2 linked regions of the Homo sapiens genome follow. The protein of the gene in region 2 purifies or fractionates together with the protein of the main gene of each other region. This does not show direct contact. Each region holds a gene or a part of one and is shown on either strand. Other genes may lie near its edges.

Region 1 (2,359 bases), on a different chromosome or scaffold from region 2:
TGGTGAAACCCCGTCTCTACTAAAATACAAAAATTGGCCGGGCTTGGTGGCGGGCATCTGTAATCCCAGCTACTCAGGAGGCTGAGGCAGGAGAATTGCTTGAACCCAGGAGGTTGTAGTGAGCCAAGATAGCACCACTGTACTCCAGCCTGGGTGACAGAGTGAGACTCTGTCTCAAAAAAAAAAAAAAAGAGAGTAAGTATTCAGGAGTAGAACTACTTCCTGAATATGATGTTTTCCATCTTGTATTTCTATTTCTACTCTTTTGTTTTTTGGGGAAGGATTAATGTGCTTCTGTGTTTAACGGTGGGTGGTATGGTATGTATGTATCTGTGAGAAAGATTTTTAAAAAGCGATACCCAATGTGTCTACCATTTAGATTTGCTTATATAATTAATACCAGATGTCACCAACTCCATTTCAACAAATTTTGAGAAAGTGGAATGCTTTTATATCCCTTGATGGCGGCAAAAAGGGGTTCTTTTGTTTCTAGACAGACAGAGTAACACTGGGTTGTCTGGAGCAGAGGAGCTCCTCTGAGATAGGGCCTCTGTTCATAGGTGACTGTATTGCTTCCTTTGGCATATCTTGTCTCAGCCCTGGCAGGGCAATGCTAGTGTACTGAAAAGAAGACTGTGGATGGATTTGAGGTCAGAGAGGCCTGCCCTCCCAATCCTCCTCTCTCTACTTCTTATTAGCTGTGTGACCTGGGAAATATCAAAACCTTTGTGAGCTTCAGTCCCTTCTATATAATGGAGATGTTACTATTTCCCTCATTAAAAACAGAATGGCTAAAATTGCCTGATGAATAGTGTCTGCTCAGTAAATATTCCTTGTCCCCTGTAATAAATAGTACATTGGAAATAATTTTTCATTGCATTAGCAAAATCTTAACCGGTGTGATGCCTTCACAAAACAGGAAGTCACTTAATCCAGCTTCTTCATTTAATGAAACTGGTGTTCAATTCTAATGGAAGGGAGGTGTCAGAAGATCTAAAATCTTGAATTTTCCTCCAAATTATCCTGGCCTCTACTTGGTTCCCAGTCTGACTACCCAAAAAAGCTTGTATCTGTCCTACAAATGTCCTGCCTGGCAACACTAAGTTTAATGACTTGTAACTTGTGTGGGGTAAAGTTATGATACACTGAGTCTTAGAACCAAATAGCTTTCCTTGTTGAGTAACAATCTTTACCATCATTAGAGTCCTTGCTTATCCGTCTCCATTTTCTTTCTGTGGTTTTGACCCAGATATTCACACTGTATCCTCAAGGTTATTGCATGATTATTCTCTAGTAGTCCCTTTTTCAGGTTTAGGATTCTTCTGTTCTGCATTTTCAGGATGTCTCCCGTGCTAAGCTAGCAGCTATAATTCCGGACCCAGTTGTAGCTCCTTCTATAGTGCCTGTTCTGAAAGATGAAGTGGATAGAAAACCAGAATACCCTAAACCAGACACTCAGCAGATGATTCCATTTCAGCCACGACATTTAGCACGTAAGCCATGACTTTAGATCCAGTACTGAGACGTTGGTTTGTTTGTTGATTTAAATCCAAAGCGTGGGGGTAAAGTGACATGGCCTCTCAATTGTGGGTTAATTATTAGACTTAGGATCACTATGACAAGTGATTTAGCTTTAATCTTTGAACTAGATTAACTAAGAATGTCCTAAAAACAAAACTTCAATGATCCAGATTCCAGGAACCCATTTTGGCAGTAATACTTGGTTTTCAGAAATGCTGCTATGGCCAGGTGCAGTGGTTTACACTTATAATCCTGGCACTTTGGGAGGCCAAGGCAGGTGGATCACCTGAGGTCAGGAGTTTGAGACCAGCCTGACTAACATGGTGAAACTTTGTCTTTATTAAAAATACAAAAATTTTCTGGGCCTGGTGGCATATACATGTAATCCCAGCTACTTGGGAGGCTGAGGCAGGAGAATCACTTGAACCCGGGAGGCGGAGGTTGCAGTGAGCCAAGATGGTGCCATTGCACTCCAGCCTGGGCAACAAGAGCGACACTCTGTATCAAAAAAAAAAAAGGAATGCTGCTATGTGCAGATTACCTGAACAGCTGGTGGAAACTTTCTTCACTGATAGATTTGGTTTCTTTACTTAGGAATGGGTTAGTAGCCTCTCTAGATTCTTTTTGAACAAGGCCCTTCTGATTAAATACACTGTTGAATAATTGACTTGAAACAGGATTGCTAAACAAATGACTTGTGTAACTCAGAAACACTCTTTGACAAAAACTGACTTTAGTTCAGTCCCTGGTTGTCTTACACAAAGTCACTTGTCTACTTCTCTGCCTCCCAGTGGCCACGGCATTGAGACTGCTGTCTCACCCACTTTGGTTTGGTAAA
Region 2 (3,137 bases):
CAGAAACAACCAAATCCTACTAGTTACATAAATTTTATACTTTGTTAGGACTTGGGTTTTTATTTAGCTCTACATATGCGATCATAGGATGCAGAAGATATATCTTCTACTGGACACGTATATATAGATGCTTAAATGTGGCTATCCCAAGGTTAGGTAATAATAAAGACTATAAGAGCTGGGCAGAAATCAGGCACAGTTTCATGAAGGGTAATATCTGAGCTGGGCCTTGGAAGATGCATAGGATCTCAACAGGACAGTAGGTGTTTCAAGCAACAATGAACTAGGAATACAGCAGAAAGCACAGGGGAAATGGTCAGGCTTGACTGAGAGTAGGTTATTTGAAGAAGTGCAATAGAAAATGCTTGGGGAAGAAAGTTGGGATTTAATTGTAAAAGGTCTTCAAGTATCAGGCTAAGAAATGTGGACTTCATCCAGTAGGTAATGTGATGTCACTGGATATCTGTGCAGTATCTATGTGATGGGTTGGGAGTGGAGAAGCCTGGGGATACTTAAGGGTCTGAGCTAGGAGGGACAGGAGGAATGGCTGTGGGAGTGGAATGGTTAGAAGATGGGCCCAATTAGAAACATACTTCAATTTGAGACAAAACCCACTAGAAATAAACACATCATCATGAAACATCTCCAAATGTACAATTTTATTTTAACAGATTTCAAGAGTCCATTTTTTAAAAAATGAGCAATAAAGAACCTCTATCAGTGAGACTTCTCATTTTATAGCAAATACATTTTTGCAGCTTAAATTTTCTTGAATTCATATACGCTTCTGTCATTTAAACAAACTTCCAGAGAAAACTGGTCTCTATATATTTAAGTAACAAATTTGACAAAATACATATTTATACATATATAGATCTCTAATATAAATATTAAATTTGAAAAAATCAAATGTGAAGCAGAAACTGCTATACAAGTATATTGTATAATATTTATTTTATACATTAAAGTATTTGGTTGAATATACTTCAATTAGGTTTCTAAAAAACACCATTATCTGCTTCTTAGTAATTGCGACATTCTTGAAAAGCATGTGAAACGGGTATAAACTTCAACTCTGTGCTTAATTCAGAATTCCTGTTTGTTCTCCTCAAACTTTTATCTTCCTAAAGCATCTTGCCAGAGACTACAAAGGAAAGGAACATTTACAGAGCACTATAAACATGTCTTTGGACAGTAAAACAGTATTTATTCTTCTACACTCTTGATTTTCCAATCATATCTTCCTCAAGGCAATGTTTCTTTGGCCCAATTTGTGCAACTAAACATAAAATTTCAAAACACAACTTTTAACAGTGTGATATGAAATGCAGTGGCAGTCCCTGCTTTTCGCCTGCTGGCTTCTTTGAAAGAAACTGCTTGGCTAAGGGACTCAGTAGAGGGCTGAGATCTGCCTGAGTATAAAGTGCTACCTGAGCTATATTTACTTCTTCCATCCCTTGGTACAATCAACAGCAAATAGACAAAATGAAGTTACCTTCCTGAGATACATGGCTTACTTTGTACTCTGCCTTTTAGGAGATGAGGTAAGACATATACATAGATGGCTTTTACTAGCCAAGGCAATGTAAATGGACTAAGATTCTCATGTGACTTGAGGTTATCTGATGAATTTATTCTCTTCAAAACCACCTACTTTTAGAGGGCATGTTTAACCCCTCTCTTTATTTAAGGAGGGAGAGAAAAACACATGTAACCAGAATTCAGAGTGGGTTACTCAACCTAAGAGAACATACGGAGTTCTCTTTGGGAAAACAACAAGACTACAGTGTTCACTTCGCACCATGAAGTGGCACTCCTGTTATGGCTGTCAGAGTCCTCTCACTTCTTATGAAAGGATGCATCTGATTCTGAAATTACTGATATATTCGATCAGTTAGGGATGTTTTAAAAAGTGAAAACAAATGCCACACATACACTTTCTAGCTTTCTGAAATCACCGAACACATTACAAAAAATAGAGAATTTACCCTATTAACTTTTAGAGAATTTTCCAATAATATTCTTGGTTAAAGAAGCCAAGTTTGTGCATATTCCCAATTTTCAGTGTTCTTGTTTTTATGCACAAGAGCCAAAGTAGTATACACATATTTTTAAGGGCTTTTTACAATGAACGATATATAAAATACATTCTATAGTTGGTGAAAGAATAATCTTAAGAGTTGGCATTAATCTTTGAACAAAAAAGATTTCAAGCCACTTTCTTTACAAAGAAAATATAATTTCATTGTGAACTATATTTCTCTAATTTTGCCAATTTTATAAAATACAGCATATCCCTGCTTTAATACAACCAGGCATGCTGTGCTGACTGGTCCAATAAATCTAAGTGTTATTTAAGGGAAAGCAGGCAATCTGTTCATACCCAAATTCATACAAGTTTCAAAGAAGCATCAAAGGATGCTACCTACATTCAAGCCACATTGCAATATTAGCTAAGCCACAGTTGCACTCATGAGAGTGAAACTACAGAATAACAACTATTGAAGATTTTAATAGAGTCAAAAGATGAACTGGCAAACCAGGTTGTGGAATCTATTCAGCCTCTCTGCTCTGCTGGAGTGGTTGATTTAGTCTGGTAAGTGGCATATTCAGCTCCACCATCTGCTTTCCTGCAAACCAAGGTATAAAGATCATGTCAAAGATAAATATAATTAAGTACAGAAATTAAATTCCAGAAGCCTATTCAGAAAATGAACAATTAAAAAAATATAGTAATGAGCCACCAACCTGGGAAATAAATTATTCTTTTAAAATAATTTCAAATGTTCAACTGGTCTCACTGTAAAAAAAACCTTCCTTTATCCCTGTCTTATATTTTTGATCCCCTCCAAAACAAGAAATAGAGCAGTAGCACACAAAGTACTTAGTAACTATGTCCTCATTTTGATGTAGGGCCAATGGGAAAGACTGGAGACAAACGCATGCTTTCCTGATCCCTCCATTTTAAAGCTGTAGCTCTGGCACAGAACCTTTAAAAAGATAGTGGTTCTAACTGTTCAAGTATGTGATGCCTCATCTACCCCTCACTGTCAAGAAAATCATGTATTCCACTAAGAGTCTCCTAAATAACTAAAGTTTACGTCACACTTTTAGTATAACAATAGACATCTTTATAA

Evidence for each region. Proteins that work in one complex are often made in the same cells at the same time.
Region 1: the proteins of CD46 (region 2) and CSTF3 fractionate together in Homo sapiens (co-fractionation; one large-scale study listed by BioGRID). This does not show direct contact.

The regions. Positions count from the first base shown.
Region 1 is NC_000011.10:33,086,122-33,088,480, reverse strand, and holds part of CSTF3 (cleavage stimulation factor subunit 3), read left to right. Parts: intron 1-1,339; coding exon 1,340-1,493; intron 1,494-2,359. UniProt on the Homo sapiens protein: One of the multiple factors required for polyadenylation and 3'-end cleavage of mammalian pre-mRNAs.
Region 2 is NC_000001.11:207,793,012-207,796,148, reverse strand, and holds the end of CD46 (membrane cofactor protein isoform 3 precursor), read right to left. Parts: intron 2,631-3,137; coding exon of another isoform or gene 2,554-2,630; 3' UTR 645-2,553; downstream 1-644. UniProt on the Homo sapiens protein: Acts as a cofactor for complement factor I, a serine protease which protects autologous cells against complement-mediated injury by cleaving C3b and C4b deposited on host tissue.